Linked DNA regions of Homo sapiens: region 2 is linked to region 1. A link means that fine-mapping ties the variant in region 1 to the expression of a gene that starts in the linked region. Tissue or cell type: whole blood. Region 1 holds a variant in brackets; the other region holds the start of a gene. All regions are shown on one strand. Distances are from middle to middle.

Region 1 (8,000 bases):
CGACCTCCTAGGCTCAAGGGATCCTCCTGCCTCAGCCTCCCAAGTAGCTGGGACTACAGACACACACCACCACGCCTGGCTAATTTTTCTTTTACTTTTTGTAGAGATGGGGTCTCTTGCTCTGTCGCCCAGGCTGGTGTGTTTTTTGTTTTGTTTTGAGATGGAGTCTCGCTCTGTCTCCCAGCCTATAGTGCAATGGCGCGATCTCGGCTCACTGCAACTTCTGCCTCCCGTGTTCAAGCAATTCTCCTGCCTCAGCCTCCCAATTCGCTGGGATTACAGGTGCCTGCTACCATACCCTGCTATTTTTTTTGTATTTTTAGTAGAGATAGGGTTTCACCATGTTGGCCAGGCTGCTCTTGAACTCCCGGGCTCAAGCAATCCTCCTGCCTTAGCCTCCCAGAGTGCTGGGATTACAGTTGTGAGCCACCGTGCCCATCCAGAAAATAGCAGTGTTTATGGAGCGAGTGGAAGACCCAGGAGTCCCATTTTTCAGGGTAAACACCTGTGCATTCTGCTGAGCTTTCTTATTACAATTTGAAAGGGGGCCATGGCCAGTGAGTCCCTTGCACCTTGCCTTCTTTTCTCCACCATCTCCCTCGAAGGCCTGGAGATCCATTCACAGGCCTCTCTCTTTCTCTAGCCAGCGCCTGTGACAAGGAGCCCAGACTGGCCTCTCCAGACCCACCCCATCCCGTTCCACAGGTGGAATGTACCCCCGTTCCCTTAGGCCAGCGGCTCTGGGGCACCGGCTACTTCCCTTATTCTTTCCTTGAGCATCCACTGCCCTGGCTGACCGATGGCACCCTCCCTTTCCCAGAAAGAGATGGATGGAGGACGAAGCGGGGGAAGAGCAGAGGTCACAGGAGCCTTGTCTCTGGCTAAAAGAGGCCCCCACTGTGTGTCTGAGGGTGACCTCGGGCTTGTCTCCCATCTCATTCCCATTGCCACACCCCATTGAGGAAACAGGCACAGAGAGGTGCGGTGCCTGCCTGAGGTCATCCAGCCGGATGCAATCCCCATCGGCTTGGGTCCAAAGCCCTTGCTTTTCCTAGTGCTCTATAAACCCTGGGGCTAGAAGGATCATCTAGATCCCACCCACCTTCCTTCCCACCCCGAGGCCTGGGCACATCCTGTTCTCTCCATCTGGAAGCTCTTTCCTCAGATCCCAAAAAGGCTCCTTTCCCCACTCGATTCAGGTCTCTGGTCAGACATCACCTCCTCCTAGGGCTCTCCTGGACCATTCCTCACCCAGCCACTCTTTGGTCTTACTTGTCCTGACTGCATTGTTCTTTTTTTGGGAGACAGGGTCTTGCTCAGTTGCCCAGGCTGGAGTGCAGTGGCACGGTCCTAGCTCACTACCGCCTCACACTCTGGGGCTCAGTCCTCCCGCCTCAGCCTCCCAAGTAGCTGGGACTACAGGCACGTACCACCATGCCTAGCTAATTTTTATTTTTGTAGAGATGGAGGTCTCCTATGTTGTCCAGGCTGGTTCCAAACTCCTGGCCTCAAAAAATCCTCCTGCCTCAGCCTCCCAAAACTCTGGGATTACAGGTGTGAGCCACCACCCGGCCTGTGTTCTCCAGCGCCGCCTGATGTTGCATCAGGTGCTTATTGGTGTATTTGGTTTGTGTCGGCCTCCACCAGGATGTCAGCAAATTGAGGGGAAGGACTTTGCCTATCTTCCTACTGTATTCCCAGCACCCTGAACAAGATCCAACACTCAGTATGGGATCAAGTAATGTATGAGGAATGAATGAATGAGCAGCAGCCCTGAATGTAGAATTGAACAATACTCATAATCACAATTCTCAGGATCAATGTCTGGCACCTATGAAGGAGAGGGAAGGAAGGGCATCTCTCACCGGAGAAGGAGTGAGTCTTCCAGACGGCAGCAGGAGACTGGTCCCCTGGGATGTGGTAGGCAGGAGGTGTGTGGCTGGGCAATGTCTTGGGGCTGAGCCCACCTTCATGCCCATTTTCTCTAACACAAAACCCTCCTCCATGGACCACTGAGAGAACTCTTTTTTTTTTTTTTTTGGAGACAGAGTCTTGCTCTGTTGTACAGGCTGGAGTGCAGTGACGCGATCTCGGCTTACTGCAACGGAAACCACCTTTGCAAAACTATGACTGAGACAGTGAAAGAGATCTAACTTCACCAACCATCTTGCTTCTAATCTCTCTCTTTTTTTTTTTTTTTTTTTGAGACAGAGTCTCGCTCTGTCGCCCAGGCTGGAGTGCAGTGGTGCGATCTCGGCTCACTGCAAGCTCCGCCTGCTGGGTTCACGCCATTCTCCTGCCTCAGCCTCCCGAGTATTTGGGAATACAGGCGCCCACCACCTCACCTGGCTAATTTTTTTTGTATTTTTAATAGAGACAGGGTTTCACTGTGTTAGCCAGGATGGTCTCAATCTCCTGATCTTGTGATCAGCCCATCTCGGCCTCCCAAAGTGCTGGGATTACAGGCATGAGCCACCTCATCTGGCCCTTGCTTCTAATCTCTAAACCGTCCTTGTTCATTTCTGGGCATAGGCTGAACTAACTTTGGGAGAAACTTAGTTTATAAACAAAGATGGTAACAGCCCTTTCCCAAAGCAGACTTCCCTGTTGCCTGGGGACTAGATTGCCTTTGTAGGACTAACATTAGCCACAAGATTAGAAATTATGGTTTAGGGCCGGGCATGGTGGCTCACGCCTGTAATCCCAGCACTTTGGGAGGCCGAGGCGGGCGGACCACCTGAGGTCGGGAGTTCGAGATCACCCTGGCCAACATGGTGAAACACCGTCTCTACTAAAAAATGCAAAATTAGCTGGGTGTGGTAGCACATGCCTGTAATCCCAGCTACTCGGGAGGCTGAGGTAGGAGAATCGCTTGAACCCGGGAGGCGGAGGTTGTGGTGAGCTGAGATCACGCCATTGCATTCCAGCCTGGGGCAACAAGAGCAAAACTCTGTCTCAAAAAAACAAAACAAACAAACAAACAAAAAAGAAATTATGGTTTAGGAGTTATGCAGCTGGAGGCTATAAGATTCGGACCCTCCCTAAACTGCTCCTAAGGTCAGCGCTTGAGATATTTGCAGACCCTGCCCTTGATGGATCAGCTGGCACCACCAGATCAATCAACTGGCTCATCTGATCTTGTGGCCCCCACCCAGGAACTGACTCAGTGCAAGATGACAGCTTTGATTCCCTCTGATTTCATCCTTGACCAATCAGCACCGCTGGCTCACTGGCTTCCCACCACCCACCAAGTTATCCTTAAAAACTCAGCTCCCTGAGAATGCTCAGGGAGTCTGATTTGAGTAAGAATAAAACTGCAGTCTCCTGCACAGCCGGCTCTGCGTGAATTGGCTCTGTCTAGGCAGCAGGCAAGGCGAACCCCTCGGGGGTTTACACAACCCGCGCTTCCTGGGTTCAAGCAATTCTCCTGCCTCAGCCTCCCGAGTAGCTGGGATTACAGGCATGCGCCACCACACCCGGCAAATTTTTTGTATTTGTATAGATGAGGTTTCACCATGTTGGCCAGGCTGGCCTTGAACTCCTGACCTCAGTTGATCTGCCTGCCTTGGCTTCCTAAAGTGCTGGGATCACAGGCGTGAGCCACCGTGCCTGGCCTGAGAACTCCTCTTTATTCCGCAAAACCCTTCAGGCATTCTACCCCATCCTGTCCCACAGGTGGAGTCTGCCCCGCCTCCCTCAGGCTGGCGGCTTTGGGGTACCAGCTACCTCACTTATTCCTTTCTTGAGCATCCGCTGCTCTGGCTGACCAAGGGTGATGGTCTGCTGCTCTTTCTTCTGGACAGAAATCACGCATTATGGGTGGGATTCCCTTTGGGGTCCTTGGACGTGGGACTGGCCCACTCCCCAAGAGGTAGGGTTTGGAGTGTGGACCAGAGCTGAAAGCAAGTGGCTGATGCTGAGGTTTTATTTCCCAATCTGCCTGCCATGCTGAAAAGGCCCTGGGAGCCCTGCCCAGAAAAAGGGAGAAGGGCACTGCGGAGTGCCCTAATGGGGACCGAAGTCCAGGCCCTGCGCTCAGAGTGTGGACTGCAGTGGGATGGGGAGGGTGAGAACTTCCCTTGTGGAACAGGAGGCAGTGCCATGGTGGGGAGGCCTGGGGGGCAGGCGATCTGCCACTCAGGCGCTGGCCTGTGGCTCAGTATTGGTCCCAGGGCTGAGTGAGACCGGGGGGTGCCCACTGCTGTCATCAAATTAATGGCTAACAATCACGAACACTTCATAGGGATTCACGCTCCTGCAAGATGGGTACCATTATTATGATCCTCATTTTACAGACGAGGAAACTGAGTCCCAAAGAGGCTAAGAGCTTTGTGGAAGGTCACACAGCCTGTGAGTGGTGGAGCCAGGATTCAAACAACCCCTGATGGTCACCAGAGAGTGCACTCTTTTTTTTTTTTTTTTTTTTTTTTTTTTTAGAGACAGAGTCTTTCTGTGTGCCCAGGCTGGAGTGCAGTGGTGCGATCTCGGCTCACTGCAAGCTCCGCCTCCCAGGTTCACGCCATTCTCCTGCCTCAGCCTCCCGAGTAGCTGGAACTACAGGTGCCCACCACCACGCCCAGCTAATTTTTTTTTTTTTTGTATTTTTAGTAGAGACAGGGTTTCACC[A/G]TGTTAGCCAGGATGGTCTCGATCTCCTGACCTTGTGATCTGCCTGCCTCAGGGTCCCAAAGTGCTGGGATTACAGGCGTAAGCCACTGCGCCCAGCCAAGAGGGCAAACCCTTAACCTCACCCAAGTGGCTCCAGAATGGAAGGCTGGCCAGAAAGGCATCTAGCGAGTGCCCAAGAAATACTGGATGAATGAATTCAATAAATGCATGCCTGGCCAGAAATCTCTCTCCCATGGGCCTCAGTGCCCGCAATTCCATCACTACGACTATGCTTCTGGTATCACCACCACCACCGCCCACAGCACTTCCCATCCCTGGGCTCAGTCAATGATCAGAACTGCCAAGCCTGCAAGGGGAACATGATCACTCCATTTTACAGAGGAGAAAACAGGCTGAGAGGAAGGAAGTTAGGAACCAGAACCCAGACCTGACTGTATCACTCTAGGCTGCCTGCACAGCCTGCTGCATTTGGAAAATGCAGGTGTCTCTGGGAAGGGTTGCACATCTGACATCATTGTCATTTACACCTGCCGGAAAGGGCGTCTCAGTTGCTGAAGGTCACGATACTGAGCTAATGGGATAAGGGGGCATGACTGGAACACTGGGGGTAAGGAGAACGCAGGTGGGGTGGGTGCCAGGAGAGGACGATGGGTAGGAAAAGGGAAGTGGAGTGGGGGTTGGAAGATAGACCTTCAGCACTTCTAGTTTTTTCTGCAGCATCAGCAGCTTGAGAGGGAAGAGCTGGTTCTGCCCTAGAGAAGCTGTGTGACCTCTGGGAGCCTTTGCCCTTTCTAATTTTTTTTTTTTTTTTTGAGATGGAGTCTTGCTCTGTCGCCAGGCTGGAGTGCAGTGGTACAATCCCGGCTCACTGCAACCTCTGCCTCCCGGGTTCAAGCAATTCTCCTGCCTCAGCCTCCCGAGTAGCTGGGATTACAGGTGTGCGCCGCTACGCCCAGCTAATTTTTGTACTTTTAATAGAGACGGGGTTTCACCATGTTGGCCAGGATGGTCTTGATCTTTTGACCTTGTGATCCGCCCGCCTCGGCCTCCCAAAGTGCTGGGATTACAGGCGTGAGCCACCGCGCCCGGCCGTCTTTGCCTTTGCCCTTCCTAGACCCACTGGTGCCCTGAGCTCTGTGTGCTTGGACAACTTCCTATCTGTGCACTTGGGCTCAGACAGAGGGAGGCTGTTATTCAGGCAGGATCGGGGCCCTCTGTACCTGCAGCCCCCACAAAGAATCTTGTGCAGCCCTCCACGGGAGGTGGGGAGCAGGTGGATGCTAATTGAACTTTTAAATAGAATCAGACTTTGAAGTCCCCTGCAGGCCCCCAAGGCACAGAGGCGGCCTCCTGGTCTTAGGCCACCTGGGTGTCTACGGCCCAGACAGGTCACAAGATCCCAGATGCCTGGGCCAGGTGGTGGCTCTCCCCACTGCCTCCTCTATCCATCCCCAGCCTCTAAAGGGACATCCTGTATGTGGATGAAGGAGAAGAAAGGCTAGTTCACCAGGCCCCTGCGTGCGCCAGGCTCTTGTAATGCCTTACACACTTTCTTATTGCATCCTCTCAACAGCTGATGACACGGGAGCTCGGAAGGTGAAGTTGCTCCTCCAGAGTCGCTCAGCTGGGACATGGCAGAGCTGGATTTGAATCCAGGCTAGGCAGCTCTTGCCTCTTCTGGCGCCTTGCTGAGGGAGGCCCTGCCCCAGCCTCAATGACTGTTGGGGGAAGGGGACTAGTGGACCAGGCTTGGCCATGCCAGGCCAGCTTGTGGTTCACCAGGGCCTTAGGCTCCTGCTTGGGGCTGGTGGCTCCTGGGAGGCCCCCTTCTCTTCAGGGACTTTTTTGTTTCACGTCCTTGTGTCCAGGCCCGGAGGAGGAGAGGGAGGGAAGGACCAAAGGGAGGTCAGGTCAAGCCCGGGGAAAGTGCCCCCTGTTGTCTTCCTCCAGCAGGACTGAGGCCCAGGGAAGAATAGTCAGCGGGGTCTGGGGTGTTGAGGGACAGTACCCCGCAAGATGCCATTAGCTGCGGTTTGGGGGCTGTCGGGCGACTGTGTGTGTGTTGGGAGCAACCACAGAAAAGGCTGATGGCCGGGAGCAGGGGTCGCTGACATGGAACTGCCTGAGACTTCTGGCTGGATTGTTTCCCCTCCCTCAAGTCCTCCTTCCAGGCCTGACGGACTCAGCAGGGTTTTTAAGGACAAAGCTGTCGGCGGCTCCCCACCTGTCTGACTGGCTGGTTCCTCTGTCTGCCCTGGGCTCTTTCACTGCTCTGGTGGGCCTGCGTGTTCCTGGACCCTCACGTGGGGCCTGCGCCCGGGGCCGCCTCTGGCGGGGTGCTGCTGGGGCTTTCTCCTTCAGAGGCAGGAGGTGTGGCTGGGTCCTCAAGGGCCCCTGGGGTAGGATGCGAGGATGGGGTTGGGGAAGCTTCATCACAGGGACTGGGCACAGAACTGGCAGCAGGTGCAGGGGTCTGGACGTTAGTGTCTGCCTGTGGCTGGGCCACAGAATCTGACTGTGGCTGGGCCATGAGGTTCAGCTGTGGCTGGGCTGTGGGATCCGACTGTGGCTGGGCCGTAGGGTTCAGCTGTGGCTGAGCTGTGGGATCCGATCGTGGCTGGAGTGTGGGGTTCACCTGAGGCTGGGCCACAGGATCCATCTGTGACTGGGCCTCTGCCATCGGCTCTGGCAGAGTTGGACCCTCAGAATCTAGCTGGGTCTGTGGCTCAGTGGGCGTGAAGCTGCCCGGCCGCTCCTCGCAGAGAGCTGCCGCGAAGGACGAGAGCACGGAGCGCAGCAGGGTCCGGAGGTCGGCACTGGCCATGAGGCAGAGGAAGGGGCTGAGGCAGCTGTTGAGTAGGATCAGGTAGTCGGAGTAGACCAGGGCCTCCCAGAGCAGGTAGCCAGAGTAGACGTCCCACAGGAAGGCCAGGTAGAGCAGCTGGGCCAGCTGGTAGGGCAGCCTCAGGACCACATAGGCTGACAGAATGGTCCTGGCCACACGGGCGAAGCCCCGGCAGGCTGCGGGCTGCTGTTGGCGGTGGCAGGTGCGACAGGCTGTGGCCTGGGTGAGCACGTGGCAGACGAGCAGCAGGAGGAAAGGCAGGAAGCCCCCCAGGACCTCCAGCATCCTCAGCGACAGCTCCTCGCTGTCCCAGAAGTCCAGGCAGATGACCAGGTCGTACCACCAGACGGCAGCCTCGGGGAAGACCAGCCAGGGCACGCTGAAGAGTGTGGCCAGCACCCAGACACCGGCGCAGACCCAGAGGGGCAGGCGGACTGGGCGGTGCCCAGGGTACCAGTGTGGGCACAGCGCCAGCAGGCAGCGGTCGAGGCTGAGGGCGGCCAGCAGGAAGAGGCCGGAGGAGTAGGAC
Region 2 (8,000 bases), 140 kb after region 1:
GGAGTTTGCATTCAGTTCCTTTATTAGTACTCTCTGGAGTTGTTGAGGGGATGTCACTGCTGAACACTGACCCTGGTGCAGGCTAAACCGAAGTTAGCCTCTGCTACCCTCTGCTGGGTGAGGCACTGGGGAGAACAGTGGGACTGAATGGGGCGGGCTTTCTCCCTCCCACACTTCCCCTGGAAACACCCAGCACCAGCACATTAGAACATGGGGAGCCACCTTCCCCAGCGCTGCTTCCCAAGGTTCGGAAGGGGAAACTCTGACCTCAAGCTCTGTTTGAAGAGCGATAGCAAAGGGGAGAGGTTGGCTGTGGTTTGGTGGTGCTTATCTCCTTCCTTTGCTTTGAAACCACAGGCTGGCATACTACCCGAGAGAATGACCAGTGCCACCAAGGGAAGGGCACAAGCTCACTGGTTCCAGGGGAGACATCTCAGGGGACAGGAACATCCCCTGACGCTGAATGAGTGCAGCACACAGACGGAGAATACACACAAGAGAAATCATGAGGACATGAGAGAAGGCACTGGCAATAGGAAGTTACAAAAAGCAACAAAAAGAAAGAGTAGATATAAAAACAATAATCGAAGAAAGCCAACAACAGATGGGATGAATCATACGAGGTATGCGACTCATGGATGAAGAGGTGAGTGATGAGATCAGCTGGGGAACTCTCTCCCAGGAAAGACAAACCAGAAGAAACACAAATGACATCGAAGTGGCCAGGCGCAGTGGCTCACGCCTGTAATCCCAGCACTTTGGGAGCCCGAGGCAGGTGGATCACTTGAGGTCAGGAGTTTGAGACCAGCCTGGCCAACATGATGAAACCCTGTCTCTACTAAAAATACAAAAATTAGCCAGGTGTGGTGGCAGGCACCTGTGATCCCAGCTACTCAGGAGGCTGAGGCAGGAGAATCACTTGAACCAGGAAGCAGAGATTGCAGTGAGCTGAGATGGTGCCAGTGCACTCCAGCCTGGGCAGTAGAGTGACAGCCTGTCTAAAAAAAAAAAAAGGCAGTAAAGTGATAGGAGGATAGATTAGAAGGGCCATTTTCCAGATAGTGCAAGGAAGAAAGAAGAAGAAGAAGAGGAGGAGGAGGAGGAAGAGGAAGAAGACGGAGAAGAGGGCATCTCAGAAGAAACAATGGAGATACATTTCTCAAAACTGAAGAAAGATGACCAACCTCAGACCGAAGGGCCAAGAGGCCAAACCAGAGAGACAGCTTGGCAAGCCAGGAAGAGCACCAAAGCTAGACAATTAGAGTGAAATTAAAGAAAACCCAAGGTGACAAAAATTTAAAAAGCTTCCTTGTGACCTCAGTCCATTGGTGAAAATTTAAAAAAAAAAAAAAAAAAAAAAGGACAGCCTGGGCAACATGGTGAAACCCCATCTCTACAAAAAATACAAAAATTAGCTGGGTGTGGTGGCACATGCCTGTAGTCCCAGCTATTCGAGAGGCTAAGTAAGGCAGGAGGATCACTTGGGGCCAAGAGTTCCAGACCAGCTGCGGCAACATACATGTTGTGGGAAGTCAGGCACCCCGAACGGAGGGACTGGCTGAAGCCATGGCAGAAGAACATAAATTGTGAAGATTTCATGGACATTTATCACTTCCCCAATCAATACTCTTGTGATTTCCTATGCCTGTCTTTAATCTCTTAATCCTGTCATCTTCGTAAACTGAGGATGTATGTCGCCTTAGGACCCTGTGATGACTGCGTTAACTGCACAAATTGTTTGTAGAGGACAATTGTTGTGTGTTTGAGCAATGTGAAATCTGGGCATCTTAAGAACAGGATAACAGCAATTTTCAGGGAACAAGGGAGATAACCTTAAAGTCTGGCTGCCTGTGGGCTGGGCAGGACAGAGCCATACTTCTCTTATTACCGCAAACAGGTAAGAGAAATATCGCTGAATTCTTTCCCCAGTAAGGAATATTAATAATTAACAGCCCTGAGAAAAGAATGCATTCCCAGGGCCGGGCCACTGAAATGGCCTCCCTGAGAGTGCCTGCCTTTATTCAGAAGTAGAAAGGGATGAAACACGCCCTAGTCTCCTGCAGCACCCCCAGACTTGATAGGATTAGGAAATTCCAGCCTGGCAAATTCTAGTCAGACCGGTTCTCTGCTCTTGAACCCTGACAGTGCGTGCACAGTGGGACCTGGAAGTTCATTAGTGATTCTAGTTTCGCCGTGACCTTCTGCCCTGTGATCTTTTGTCGCCCTTGAAGTATGTGATCTCTGTGACCCACACCCTGTTCGTGCACTCCCTCCTCTTTGAAAATTGCTAATAAAAACTCGCTGGTTTTACGGCTCAGGGGGCATCACGGAACCTGCGGACATGTGATGTCTCCCCTGGACACCCGGCTTTAAAATGTCTCTCTTTTGTACTCTTTCCCTTTATTTCTCAGGCCAGCCGACACTTAGGGAAAATAGGAAAGGACCCACGTGAAATATTGGGGGCTGAATTTCCCCCGATAATAAGTCTCTTAAAAAAGACTTTTAAATGAAATTTCTTTGTTTTTTAACTTTTATTTCTGTTTTGGGGGTACATGTGAAGGTTTGTTACATAAGTAAACTCGTGTCTTCGGTGTTTGTTGTACAGAATATTTCATCACCCAGGTATTATGCCGAGTACCCAATAGTTCTCTTTTCTGCTCCTCTCCTTCCTCCCATCCTGCACCCTGGAGTCAACCACAGTGTCTGTTGTTTCCTTGTTTGTGTTATAAGTTCTCATCATTTAGCTCCCACTTACAAGTGAGAACATCCAGTATTTGGATTTCTGTTCCTGCATTAGTTTGCTAAGGATAATAGCCTCTAGCTCCATCCATGTTCCCACAAAAGACATGATCTAGTTCTTTTTAATGGCTGCATTAAATGAAGTTTTAAAGATACAACATAAACACCAACCTCTTCCCCACCACAAAAATCCCTTGCTGAATTTGATTACACTTAAATTAACGAGTTTTGTTTCATGAAAGACTCCTTGGACAAACTTGACAGTTGATGGAATAGGAGAAGCTGTCTGTCATGTCTAAAGCCAACAAGAGATCAATATCTAGAATAAATGGAGATCTGCAAATCAACAGAAAGTAGGCAGCAAAGCCAAAGAAAATAGCCTAAGGCACAGCCACTAAAAGGAACGTGATCATGTCCTTTGCAGGGACATGGGTGGAGCTGGAAGCCGTTAGCCTCAGCAAACTCACACAGGAACAGAAAACCAGCGAGACCGCATGGTCTCACTTATAAGTGGGAGCTGAACAATGAGAACACATGGTCACATGGCGGCGATCAACACACACTGGTGCCTGTTGAGCGGGGTGCTGGGGAGGGAGAGTACCAGGAAGAATAGCTAAGGGATACTGGGCTTAATACCTGGGTGATGGGATGATCTGTACAGCAAACCATCATGGCGCACACACCTATGTAACAAACCTGCACATCCTCTACATGTACCCCAGAACTTCAAATAAAAGTTGGACGGCCAGGCGTGGTGGCTCACGCCTGTAATCCCAGCACTTTGGGAAGCCGAGGCGTGCAGATCACCTAAGGTCAGGAGTTCGAGACCAGCCCGGCCAACATGGTGAAACCCCGTCTCTACTAAAAATACAAAAATCAGCCAGATGTGGCACGCACCTATAATTCCACCTACTCGGGAGGCTGAAGCAGAATTGCTTGAACCCGAGAGGCGGAGGTTGCAGTGAGCCGCCGAGATCGCGCCACTGCACTCCAGCCTGGGCCACAGCGTGAGACTACGTCATAAAATAAAATAAAATAACACAAAATAAAATAAAATAAAATAAAATAAAATAAAATAAAATAAAATAAAATAAAATAAAAAAATAAAATAAAATAAAATAAAATAAAGCAATTTCCTTTCCTCTAAGCGGCCTCCACCCCTCTCCCCTGCCCTGTGAAGCGGGTGTGCAAGCTCCGGGATCGCAGCGGTCTTAGGGAATTTCCCCCCGCGATGTCCCGGCGCGCCAGTTCGCTGCGCACACTTCGCTGCGGTCCTCTTCCTGCTGTCTGTTTACTCCCTAGGCCCCGCTGGGGACCTGGGAAAGAGGGAAAGGCTTCCCCGGCCAGCTGCGCGGCGACTCCGGGGACTCCAGGGCGCCCCTCTGCGGCCGACGCCCGGGGTGCAGCGGCCGCCGGGGCTGGGGCCGGCGGGAGTCCGCGGGACCCTCCAGAAGAGCGGCCGGCGCCGTGACTCAGCACTGGGGCGGAGCGGGGCGGGACCACCCTTATAAGGCTCGGAGGCCGCGAGGCCTTCGCTGGAGTTTCGCCGCCGCAGTCTTCGCCACCAGTGAGTACGCGCGGCCCGCGTCCCCGGGGATGGGGCTCAGAGCTCCCAGCATGGGGCCAACCCGCAGCATCAGGCCCGGGCTCCCGGCAGGGCTCCTCGCCCACCTCGAGACCCGGGACGGGGGCCTAGGGGACCCAGGACGTCCCCAGTGCCGTTAGCGGCTTTCAGGGGGCCCGGAGCGCCTCGGGGAGGGATGGGACCCCGGGGGCGGGGAGGGGGGGCAGACTGCGCTCACCGCGCCTTGGCATCCTCCCCCGGGCTCCAGCAAACTTTTCTTTGTTCGCTGCAGTGCCGCCCTACACCGTGGTCTATTTCCCAGTTCGAGGTAGGAGCATGTGTCTGGCAGGGAAGGGAGGCAGGGGCTGGGGCTGCAGCCCACAGCCCCTCGCCCACCCGGAGAGATCCGAACCCCCTTATCCCTCCGTCGTGTGGCTTTTACCCCGGGCCTCCTTCCTGTTCCCCGCCTCTCCCGCCATGCCTGCTCCCCGCCCCAGTGTTGTGTGAAATCTTCGGAGGAACCTGTTTCCCTGTTCCCTCCCTGCACTCCTGACCCCTCCCCGGGTTGCTGCGAGGCGGAGTCGGCCCGGTCCCCACATCTCGTACTTCTCCCTCCCCGCAGGCCGCTGCGCGGCCCTGCGCATGCTGCTGGCAGATCAGGGCCAGAGCTGGAAGGAGGAGGTGGTGACCGTGGAGACGTGGCAGGAGGGCTCACTCAAAGCCTCCTGCGTAAGTGACCATGCCCGGGCAAGGGGAGGGGGTGCTGGGCCTTAGGGGGCTGTGACTAGGATCGGGGGACGCCCAAGCTCAGTGCCCCTCCCTGAGCCATGCCTCCCCCAACAGCTATACGGGCAGCTCCCCAAGTTCCAGGACGGAGACCTCACCCTGTACCAGTCCAATACCATCCTGCGTCACCTGGGCCGCACCCTTGGTGAGTCTTGAACCTCCAAGTCCAGGGCAGGCATGGGCAAGCCTCTGCCCCCGGAGCCCTTTTGTTTAAATCAGCTGCCCCGCAGCCCTCTGGAGTGGAGGAAACTGAGACCCACTGAGGTTACGTAGTTTGCCCAAGGTCAAGCCTGGGTGCCTGCAATCCTTGCCCTGTGCCAGGCTGCCTCCCAGGTGTCAGGTGAGCTCTGAGCACCTGCTGTGTGGCAGTCTCTCATCCTTCCACGCACATCCTCTTCCCCTCCTCCCAGGCTGGGGCTCACAGACAGCCCCCTGGTTGGCCCATCCCCAGTGACTGTGTGTTGATCAGGCGCCCAGTCACGCGGCCTGCTCCCCTCCACCCAACCCCAGGGCTCTATGGGAAGGACCAGCAGGAGGCAGCCCTGGTGGACATGGTGAATGACGGCGTGGAGGACCTCCGCTGCAAATACATCTCCCTCATCTACACCAACTATGTGAGCATCTGCACCAGGGTTGGGCACTGGGGGCTGAACAAAGAAAGGGGCTTCTTGTGCCCTCACCCCCCTTACCCCTCAGGTGGCTTGGGCTGACCCCTTCTTGGGTCAGGGTGCAGGGGCTGGGTCAGCTCTGGGCCAGGGGCCCAGGGGCCTGGGACAAGACACAACCTGCACCCTTATTGCCTGGGACATCAACCAGCCAAGTAACGGGTCATGGGGGCGAGTGCAAGGACAGAGACCTCCAGCAACTGGTGGTTTCTGATCTCCTGGGGTGGCGAGGGCTTCCTGGAGTAGCCAGAGGTGGAGGAGGATTTGTCGCCAGTTTCTGGATGGAGGTGCTGGCACTTTTAGCTGAGGAAAATATGCAGACACAGAGCACATTTGGGGACCTGGGACCAGTTCAGCAGAGGCAGCGTGTGTGCGCGTGCGTGTGCATGTGTGTGCGTGTGTGTGTGTACGCTTGCATTTGTGTCGGGTGGGTAAGGAGATAGAGATGGGCGGGCAGTAGGCCCAGGTCCCGAAGGCCTTGAACCCACTGGTTTGGAGTCTCCTAAGGGCAATGGGGGCCATTGAGAAGTCTGAACAGGGCTGTGTCTGAATGTGAGGTCTAGAAGGATCCTCCAGAGAAGCCAGCTCTAAAGCTTTTGCAATCATCTGGTGAGAGAACCCAGCAAGGATGGACAGGCAGAATGGAATAGAGATGAGTTGGCAGCTGAAGTGGACAGGATTTGGTACTAGCCTGGTTGTGGGGAGCAAGCAGAGGAGAATCTGGGACTCTGGTGTCTGGCCTGGGGCAGACGGGGGTGTCTCAGGGGCTGGGAGGGATGAGAGTAGGATGATACATGGTGGTGTCTGGCAGGAGGCGGGCAAGGATGACTATGTGAAGGCACTGCCCGGGCAACTGAAGCCTTTTGAGACCCTGCTGTCCCAGAACCAGGGAGGCAAGACCTTCATTGTGGGAGACCAGGTGAGCATCTGGCCCCATGCTGTTCCTTCCTCGCCACCCTCTGCTTCCAGATGGACACAGGTGTGAGCCATTTGTTTAGCAAAGCAGAGCAGACCTAGGGGATGGGCTTAGGCCCTCTGCCCCCAATTCCTCCAGCCTGCTCCCGCTGGCTGAGTCCCTGGCCCCCCTGCCCTGCAGATCTCCTTCGCTGACTACAACCTGCTGGACTTGCTGCTGATCCATGAGGTCCTAGCCCCTGGCTGCCTGGATGCGTTCCCCCTGCTCTCAGCATATGTGGGGCGCCTCAGTGCCCGGCCCAAGCTCAAGGCCTTCCTGGCCTCCCCTGAGTACGTGAACCTCCCCATCAATGGCAACGGGAAACAGTGAGGGTTGGGGGGACTCTGAGCGGGAGGCAGAGTTTGCCTTCCTTTCTCCAGGACCAATAAAATTTCTAAGAGAGCTACTATGAGCACTGTGTTTCCTGGGACGGGGCTTAGGGGTTCTCAGCCTCGAGGTCGGTGGGAGGGCAGAGCAGAGGACTAGAAAACAGCTCCTCCAGCACAGTCAGTGGCTTCCTGGAGCCCTCAGCCTGGCTGTGTTTACTGAACCTCACAAACTAGAAGAGGAAGAAAAAAAAAGAGAGAGAGAAACAAAGAGAAATAACCATGGTCACTGTCCTGGAGCACCACACAGTGTATATAGAAGGAGAAAAGTCTCATAGAAACATGCTTTCTAGGCACAGCACGTGCCTGTCAGATGGACAGACTCCAGGATGGAGGGAAATGAGGGATTCTGGGAAGGAGGGATGTGAGGAGTTCCCTGTCCTGGGGGATTAGCTGAGTAGCTCTGAGCAGCCCAGGTTGGTGGGAGGGTCATTCTGCTTGGATGGGGGCTTTCCTGGCTTCCTGCTGACTTGTGAGTTTTGGTGCATCCTAGGCAAGCAATGACACTACTGTATTAGGATTCTCCAGAGAAGCTAAGCCAGTAAGATGCTGTAGGGCAGGCAAAATTTTATCTCTGTCCTTTTAGGGTTTTTTGGCTGGGCCTGAGAACTAAAGACATGAGCAAGAGAAAAGCATTCAAATTTATCTAGGCTGGGCATAGTGGCTCATGCCTGTAATCCCAGCACTTTGGGAGGCTGAGGCAGGTGAATCACTTGAGGTCAGGAGTTCAAGACCAGCCTGACCAACATGGTGAAACCCCGTCTCTACTAAAAATACAAAAATTAGCCAGGTGTGGTGGCGGTTACCTGTAGTCCCTGCTACTTGGGAGGCTGAGGCATGAGAATCGCTCTCTCTCTCCTGCCACCTTGTAAAGATGTGCCTGCTTCCCCTTCACCTTCCACCCT

The links. PIP is the estimated chance that this variant, and not a neighbour inherited with it, causes the effect.
Region 2: it holds the start of GSTP1, and the variant in region 1 is fine-mapped to the expression of GSTP1 in whole blood (TOPMed, PIP above 0.99).

What each region holds. Positions count from the first base shown.
Region 1 is chr11:67,444,387-67,452,386 of GRCh38, forward strand. GPR152 (G protein-coupled receptor 152) reads right to left here. Exons shown (of 1, transcript NM_206997.1): 1 at 6,915-8,000. The coding sequence ends at 6,926. Among named protein-coding and RNA genes, the nearest start is that of GPR152, 4.3 kb to the right of the region's middle. RefSeq lists an enhancer at 1,796-1,875. The variant A/G (reference allele first, on the strand shown) is at 4,627.
Region 2 is chr11:67,579,539-67,587,538 of GRCh38, forward strand. GSTP1 (glutathione S-transferase pi 1) reads left to right here and starts at 4,274. Exons shown (of 7, transcript NM_000852.4): 1 at 4,274-4,306; 2 at 4,596-4,631; 3 at 4,926-5,032; 4 at 5,147-5,234; 5 at 5,600-5,703; 6 at 6,566-6,673; 7 at 6,851-7,115. The coding sequence starts at 4,306. The coding sequence ends at 7,039. RefSeq lists silencers at 3,874-4,493, 4,044-4,186, 4,504-4,653 and an enhancer at 7,153-7,222.